Regions from separate parts of the Homo sapiens genome. Here region 2 is linked to region 1. The links come from fine-mapping of genetic effects on gene expression. A gene starts in region 1. The other region holds a variant in brackets. All regions are shown on one strand. Distances are from middle to middle. Region 1 holds the start of PRSS3 (serine protease 3). Region 2 overlaps UBE2R2-AS1 (UBE2R2 antisense RNA 1).

Region 1 (4,386 bases):
TTGTGCTTTAATAAGCCTGCAGGTGGTTTTGACGCATACTCAGGTTTGAGAGTTCTTCGTGTAGGCAGCGGTTCTCAGCTCTGTCTATACACTCTACAGTTACCAGAGGTAGAGTGTTAAATACTCACTGGTATTCACACTGTCTTCCTGAGAAGTTTGAGTTAATTGCCCTGGGGTAGGACACAGGCATCAGTATTTTCAAAAACTCTGTCTTAGGTCGCTTTAATGTGTAGCTAACCAGCAAAAGGTACTTGCCTGCTTTTGTCACTAGCTCTGACAACTCCAAGATTATCCCTGCCTGCTTTTATGACCACAACCCTTGCTGTTTCATGGATTGGCCTTGCTCTGGAGAGTCAGCTGCTGTCAACAAGTTTTCTTTTCCACCACCTCTCCCATCCGTCTTACCCAACCTCAGTACTTCCCTGGGCTGAAGCCAAGCTCTCCCAGGCAGCCTGGCTGGGAGCTTTGCAGTCAGGGGCCCCACACTTACGTCTTGTAGCAGTGAGCTGCTGATACCACCCACTGTTCGCTGATGAGGGAGCCACCGCAGAAGTGGGAGCCAGAATTCAGGGACACCTGGTAGGGGAGAGAATTCTCCTCACAGGTGTAGCCCCCAACAATCTTGTCATCATCGTCAAAGGGGACAGCAACTGGAGTGGAAATAGGAAGGGAGAAGGCAAGTCAGTAGCATGTTAGGGGTGGTGCTCCCAGCCTGCGGTTGCTTCCTGCCAATTAGAAATCCTTAACAAGCCCAGTGAGGCCAGGCAAGGGAGGGAGCGCTGCCACCCCTGGTGAGCATCACTGGATGTGGCTCCCAAGTCTCTGTGTCTGCAGGGCACGTAGCTAGGTACCCTGCAGGGGCTCAGATCTCTCCTGGGGACACCAGGCTGAGGATGCAAGGAATGTCCTCAAAATGCTTCCAGTGGGGTAGCAGTTGGTATGTTGTTGTCTCACCCACTGAGTGCTTCTCTCTTTTATTCATCACCTGTGTACTTGCCCTGGCTATTTGAGCCCTGGATTGTCAGGATACTTTGGCTAAGCTAGGAAAACCCCCTGTCTGGGTAGACCTGGCCATGACTAGCTTCCCCCATAGCTCAGATCTGTGCAGTGAGGGCAGAGTTGAGGGCAGCCCCAGGCTCACTTTGGCATAACAAAGGTAGACTTTGTTATTGGCCAATAGAAGAGCAATTCTTAACTTTGGCGGCATGCCTGGAAACGTTAAAAATCACCTGGGAAGCTTAAAAGCCCAGTACACAGGCTGCACCCCAGACAAATGAAGTTAGAACTTCTAGAGTTGAATCTCTGGCATGAGTAATTTTTGAACCTCCCCAGGTGCATTCGAGGTTAAGAGCAGCTATAGTGGTGCTATACTGGTGCTCTTGGAGCCAAGCCTGAAGCCTGCCACTTCATTTCATGGGCCAGCCCCACCTGGTCTCCCTTCCCAGCTTCTCCAACCACAGCTCGGATATGGATGAATGACAGTGGTGGGAGTGAAATGAGGGAAAAGGTGAAACAGGTGAGGCTTAAAGAGAGCCCAAGGAGGATGGGAAGGAGATATGTCAGATGGAGGAAATAGAATATCAGAGCGCAGTCAAAAGAGGAGAGGTGGCAAGAATGGCAGGGCATGTGTCTGCCAGGAAAGGGGGTGGGTGGGGCCTGAGGCAGGTCATGAAACTCGCCAGCAGCTCCCACAAAGGCAAGGATCAGGAATGGATTCATGGTGGTAGAGTGTGCCTGACTGGTGGTGGAAGGCCTGTCCTTATACCCTTCCAAGAATCAGGAGAGGAGGTGTCTGTGAGGTGAGGGTCACAGTTCTTCCCAGCACAAACACACCTGCAGCTTTCCCCTTGCCAGGGTCTTGCATCAGCTCGGCTACGTTTGGCCACTCTGTGGGTTTGTGATTCACAGGTGATAAGGAAACTTGCCTTCTGAGAGCAGAGAGGGAGACTGGCTATTTCCTGGAAGGATGCTGGGATGGGGAAGACAGGGGAAACCAATCCCCGGATCACACAGCTGGGCTTTCGTAGGCCGAGGAGATGAGGGTTAGAAGGAGGGAGAATGGCCTGGGTGTCTAGGAGTCCTTTTAACTATTGGGGATGTATTTAATAATGTACTTAAGGAAGGGCAAGCATTGGTAACAAGCTTGGCTTTTCAGTTTCCTGGAGCCCCCACGAGAGGAGGAAAGTCTTATCTAAGGCTCATTTTTGTGAATATGAATATGCTTCTTTGCAGTCACTGTGCACAAAGGTCAAATCCAAGACTTTGGGTATCCAGAATTCCAACACTAAGGGGTAAGGAGAAGGGAGACTTAGCATTCCATAGGATTCTGGGCTTCCAGATGGCTCTCCTTCCTACCAAGGCTTAAAAGGATGGGAAGTGTTTCAAAGAAGGAGGGGACACAGGTTAGGTAGGAGCTTACTCAGTGCATCTGGAGGATGGAAAACCAATGGCGCACTCCTCCCCTTCTTCAATGTGAAGCCACTTGTCTCTCTCATGTGCATCCTGTCATAGGTTCTTTTTATGCAGCCTCACGGTTGTCCTGGCAACCTGCACTTAGGGTGATGCAAACTGACTCACCTGCTCAGGGCTGACAGCCTGAACCAGAATGACATGCCCCTGATCAGATGTCAGAGTTTGGACCATGGTAAATCTGGGTTACCATCTGATCTGAGAATCAGCAGTAGGTAGAGATTTTAGCACATGGTAAATGGGTCACATATTGGGATCAATAAGAAGATGTGGAGGGGTGGGTCTAGAATTTTCTATTTTAGATGCAGTGAGATTATGCTGGGCTTAGTATCAAGTGAATCTTCCCAGAGAATATCCTGATTTGGGCCCTACCAAGGCTACTAAGACACAGTTGTGTAATTGACTGAGGCACAACCTGGCCAGAGTAGTGTGGAGATGGAGATGCTGTCTGTGATCAAGTCTAATGATGTAAGGAAAGGAGGAGCTTCCTTATGAGGGTGCTTTCCCTTCTCAGCAACTCTGAGCTCAGGTTGGTGATGGGCAGGAGTGAGCAGAGTTCAAGTTTAAATTCTTTGAAAAGTAAAAGAAGCAGAGATGTTCTGGAGATGGTGAACAAAATGAGAAAAGCTCAGAAACTTCGTGTTGAGATCGGACATGGCCAGGGGGCTAGAGGGAGGAAGCAAATGGAAACCAGAGGGAATTGGAAAAAATGCGAATGTGGGGCCCGTGGAGTTGAGAGGACACACAGAGTACCTTCAGGTTCAGCTCCTGGCATGGCCAACGAGCCAGCTTCCCCAAAGCCAGGAGATCCACTGCTCAGAGACCCGCTCTCCACCCCACATCCCCTCTAATCACTGATGGGCTCATACCTAACACTGCTGTACTTAGATGGTGCATGGTGCCTGACAGCTTTACAAGAGTTTTCACATAAGCAACAGTGGTACATTGCTTTTCAGTTATGCTGAGTTTCACAGTTTGACTTCCCACAAACATGCTAATTGTGATTTGTGCAGAGCAAAATTATTTCCATTTATAGAGGAAGAGACTGAGATTCAGAAGGATTCTGTCTTGCCCAAGAATACAGATCTTGGCAGAGCTCACCATAAGGCCAACGGAAGCCATGGAGATCATTGTGAACTGTGGGAATTGCTGCAGGTGACATCTAAAAGGAGATTTATTGAGGATCAAGGCAGAGGTCCCCAGAGGACAAACTGTGCATCTGATTCCTTCCTCCTGCTTTTCTTCCTGGCAGAAATAGATGATTGAATTCATCTTTCTCCTGGCACCTTGTCTCAGAGACTTCCCTTGCCACAGTTCCAGACCCATCCAGGCCATGACTGCCATGTAGATGACACACCTCTCTGCTCACAAATGACTGGCCAAGCCTGAGGTATCCAGGTTTTGGAGCATTGATAATATGGGTTTTTCCTGTGTTGCCCCTAAACATGTTGTTTCATTTTGTCCCCTTGTCATGGGGTCTTCACACAACTCCTGCCTTAGAGGATAAGGAAAGGCTCTTGCTGTAGCAACTGTAGACACCAGTGTGCACTAAATAGGGAGGTGAACCTTGGCAGAAGATGGAAACTTTTTTTGGAGAACGGGATTTTTGGATCAGTGCTTGTGGCTCTGACTCTGTCTGAAAGGAACACCCAAGAATATGAGGATTTTCTGTATCTAGAGCTTGAAGATTAGCCTTCTCCAGTATTTTGCGCTCTTCCTTAAATGATCACAGTATAGTCTGAGGTCAGCTTTCTTCAAAAAGGAATGACCTTACAGGCAGAGAAGATAGCTATAGGTGGAGACTGTTACCTCATACTGTAGACTCAGATGTGTAGGATAGGTTCAGATCCAGCTGCCCAAGCTCAATTTGGAGGACATGCCATTCTTGGTACTCTTCATCCTGAACTAGAGATTTCT
Region 2 (4,386 bases), 46 kb after region 1:
ACTGAGCAATATTCATTCCAGGGCCGCGGCCAGCCGGACATAGGCACTCGGGGGCGGTGGGAGTAGTGTGCGCATCGGTGCCGCAGCCCGGAGGGGGCCCCAGGTGGGCTTCTGCGACACCAGGGCCCTCCATCCCCTCCCGTCCTCCCCTAGAGGAGCCTCCATCCCTGTCCCTGAGCCCCTCCCAGTCGGTATCCCCTCCCTGTCCGCGTACCCTCCCCCGCAGGTCCCATGCGAGTCGGAACCCCCTCTCCATCACAGCCCCGCTCCTTGGCGGGGCTCCCTCTCCCTTCGAGCCCTCCTCCAGTTTCAAGCCCCCTGCGGGTACTGACGTCTGACCTGTGCCCAGCGCCTCGCAGCCGTCTGCATCCCGCGCCGCTCGCCAAGTGCGTCCACCCAGAAGCGGGTGCAGCTCCAGGCCCGCCCCGCCCCGCTGCGCCCCGCCCCGCTCCACTCTGCCAGGCCTGGCAGCCGCCAGACCCTTTCCACACTTGACCGCCCTTCCCGGTCCCGGCCAGCGTGCGGGGCATCTGTCGTCAGGTCCGCACATCCTCCAGGCCCTTGACCTTCCCTTGGAGATGTCTCTGGCCCCAGGAACTCCCTAGGCTGTGTGCTTCAGGAGAGGCTGGTTCCTGAGTCACCCAGGAGGACTGCAACCAACCGGGACCTCCTGGGATGCAAAGAGATCGCAGGGCCTGGGAGGCGGCGAGGAGCCCGAGCACAGGCTGTGGCTCTGAAGAGTGTTTGTTACCAAGCCAGGCAACCACTGCGAACACACCGGAGAAACAGCCACAGATCACCGTCCAGCAAAGGAAGAAGGCACCAACGGTCCATCAGGGACCACAACCCAGTTTTTCTAGTTTAAGTTTGGTGGCTAAGTTTGAGTGTCACATAGTTCATTCATTCCTTCATTCATTCAACAAATCTGCCACGTTCCCATCTGATAACAGATCTGACAGGTGGGCACAGTTCTAGGTGCTGGCAATAGAGCTGAGAAGGAAACAAAGTCCCTGTCCCGGAGAAGGGGGCTTCCTGCTGAGGAGCGCATGACTTTCTTTGTGGTATTGTGCTGTGGCAGCGGGGTCCTCTTCTGTAAGCTACTGAGAGGTGAAGCTGGCTGGGCTTCTGGGTCTGATGGGGACTTGGAGAACTTTTCTGTCTAGCTAAAGGATTGTAAAAGCATCAATCAGCGCTCTGTGTCTACGCTCTGTGTCTAGCTAAAGGTTTGTAAACACACCAATCAGCACTCTGTGAAAATACACCAATCAGTGCTCTGTGTCCAGCTAATTGGTGGGGACTTGGAGAACTTTTCTGTCTAGCTAAAGGATTGTAAAAGCATCAATCAGCGCTCTGTGTCTAGCTAAAGGTTTGTAAACACACCAATCAGCACTCTGTAAAAATGCACCAATCAGTGCTCTGTGTCCAGCTAATTGGTGGGGACTTGGAGAACTTTTCTGTCTAGCTAAAGGACTGTAAATGCACCAATCAGCACTCTGTGTCTAGCTAAAGGTTTGTAAACACACCAATCAGCACTCTGTAAAAACGGACCAATCAGCACTCTGTAAAATGGACCAATCAGCACTCTGTAAAATGGACCAATCAGCAGGATGCAGGCGGGGCCAATAAGGGAATAAAGGCTGGCCATCGCGGCCAGCTTCCCCGTTCGGGTCCCCTCCCACATTGTGGGAGATTTGTTCTTTCCCCTTTTGCAATAAATCTTGCTGCTGCTCACTTTTTAGGTCCACACTACCTTTATGAGCTGTAACACTCATGGTGAAGGTTTGCAGCTTCACTCCTGAAGCCAGCCAGACCAGGAACCCACCATGAGAAACAAACAACTCTGGAGCCGCCATAAGACTCACTGTGGCTTTAAGAGCTATAAGACTCACTGTGAAGGT[C/G]TGCGGCTTCACCCCTGAAGTCAGCCAGACCACGAACCCACCGGGAGGAACAAACAACTCCGGACGCACCACCTTTAAGAGCTGTAACGCTCACTGCAAAGGTCTGCGGCTTCACTCATGAAGTCGTGCATAGACCACGAACCCAGTAGAAGGAAGAAACTCCTGACACATCTGAACATCTGAAGGAACAAACTCTGGACACACCGTCTTTAAGAAGTGTAACACTGCGAGGGTCCGCGGCTTCATTCTTGAAGTCAGCGGCACCAGGAACCCATTGGAGGGAACCAATTCCGGACACACAGCCTCGTGGAATGGTTCTGCACAGTGTGTGTGTGTTTCCCGTCAACCCTGTGCACACTATTAAAAGAACACAAGCGCTAAGCCTCCCTCTCAGACCTACTGGTAAGAATCCAGGGCTGATGCACCTATTAAAAGCTTCTCAGGAGGCCGGGGGAAGTCGGGATTGAGAACCACGGGTCTAGATCTCCAAGATGCCTGGCAGTTTATCCCACTGTTGAGGGCACTGGCAATCAGGAAGGGCTTCATGGAAGAGATGTTCGTATTTGGGTTTTAAAGCAGGGCCACAGATAGATATTAGCAGTGCAGAAGGACACAGGATCTGATGGGCAGCCTCTTGACCAAATGGCTCTCCCTTTCTATAAAGTCAAAGAAAATCACTGTGAAGGATAAAGCATTAGCTGGAGCAGATCTTTCCCTGGTAAAACAAAGTGAATGGGATCTGGTGGGAGGTGGTAATGGCCAAGAGGTAGTGTCATCAGTTAAAAGCATAATGGAGTTGTGCACCTTAGAGGGAGGATGGGCCGCAGCCAGGAGCTGGGAGGGCATCTTTTAAATTTGCTGTCAGCTCAGAAACTTAATCACACGTCTCATCCTAGCACTTGCTCACAACCTTTGTTTTAGAAATCGTTGATGGAGTGGAGTCCTGGATGCCTGTTACCCTGGGAGAGGCTATCCTCTGTCACCAGATCCCTTTTATGGACAGCCATTTTCTTTTTTAATATTTACCTTGCCTACCATGGTGAAACAAAGGTGTGACCTTTTAATTGTATAGTTCAATCGTGAGTAGAGATGCTTTTATTTATTTATTTTTTTTGAGACGGGAGTTTTGCTCTTGTTGCCCAGGCTGGAGTGCAATGGCTCGATCTCGGCTCACCACAGCCTTGACCTCCTGGGTTCAAGTGACTCTCCTGTCTCAGCCTCCTGAGTAGCTGGGATTACAGGCATGTGCCGCCAGGCCCGGCTAACTTTGTATTTTTAGTAGAGTTGGGGTTTCTCCATGTTTGTCAGACTGGTCTTGAACTCCCGACCTCGGGTGATCTGCCCACCTGGGCCTCCTAAAGTGCTGGGATTACAGGTGTGAGCCACCTCGCCTGGCCGAGATGCTTCTTAATATTAAAAAATCTAAACAAAATAATTTCTGCTTCAAATTATAATAATCAGGTACCAGGACAAAACCAGTTTGTGTGTGTGTGTGTGTGTGTGTGTGTGTGTGTTTGAGACAGGGTCTCACTTTGTTGCCCAGGGTGAAGTTCAGTGGTGCAATCATAGCTCACTGTAGCCTTGACCTCCAACGCTCAAGAGATACTCCTGCCACAGCTTCCTAAGTAGTTGGGACTACAGGTGTACATCAACACGCATGGCTAACGTTTACATTTTTAAAAATTTCAATAGTTTTTGGGGAACAGGTCATTTTTTGTTACACGGATAAGTTCTTTAGTGGTGATTTTTGAGATTTTTGTGTACTCATCACCTGAGCAGTGTACACTGTACCCAGTGTATAGTCTTTTATCCCTCACCCTCCTCTCACTTACCCCTGAGTCCCCATAGTCCATTATATATATTTTTTTTTTTATTTTTTTTTTTTTTGAGACAGAGTCTTGCCCTGTCACCCTGGCTGGAGTGCAGTGGTGCAATCTCAGCTCACTGCAACCTCTGCCTCCCAGGTTCAAGTGATTCTCCTGCCTCAGCCTCCCGAGTAGCTGGGACTACAGGCACGTGCCACAACGACTACTTTTTGTATTTTTAGTAGAGACAGGGTTTCACCATGTTAGCCAGGATGGTTTCAATCTTCTGGCTTCATGATCCACCTGCCTTGGCCTCCCAAAGTGCTGGGATTACAGGTGTGAGCCACTGCGCCTGGCACATTATATCATTCTTATGCCTTTGCGTCCTCATAGCTTAGCAAACCCTTATAAGTGAGAACATATGATATTTGGTTTCCCATTCCTGAGTTACTTCACTTGGAATAATGTTCTCCAACTCCCGTACAAATTGCTGCAAATGCCATTACTTCATTCCTTTTTATGGCTGAGTAGTAGTCCATGGTGTAAATATATCACATTTTCTTTATCCACTTGTCAGTCGAGGGGCATTTAGGCTGGTTCCATATTTTTGCAATTGTGAATTCTGCTCCTATAAACAAGCAGATGCAAGTGGCTTTTTCATATGATGACTTCTTTTCTTCTGG

Evidence for each region. PIP is the estimated chance that this variant, and not a neighbour inherited with it, causes the effect.
Region 2: its variant is the best candidate, but not a certain one, in a credible set for the expression of PRSS3 in whole blood (TOPMed, PIP 0.86).

What each region holds. Positions count from the first base shown.
Region 1 is chr9:33,792,907-33,797,292 of GRCh38, reverse strand. It overlaps PRSS3 (serine protease 3), which reads right to left and starts at 1,732. Exons shown (of 5, transcript NM_002771.4): 1 at 1,680-1,732; 2 at 491-650. The coding sequence starts at 1,719. The region is part of intron 3 of UBE2R2-AS1 (UBE2R2 antisense RNA 1); the gene reads left to right. RefSeq lists an enhancer at 683-1,183.
Region 2 is chr9:33,746,681-33,751,066 of GRCh38, reverse strand. The region is part of intron 3 of UBE2R2-AS1 (UBE2R2 antisense RNA 1); the gene reads left to right. It also overlaps a transcript of PRSS3 not described here. Among named protein-coding and RNA genes, the nearest start is that of PRSS3, 47 kb to the left of the region's middle. The variant C/G (reference allele first, on the strand shown) is at 1,899.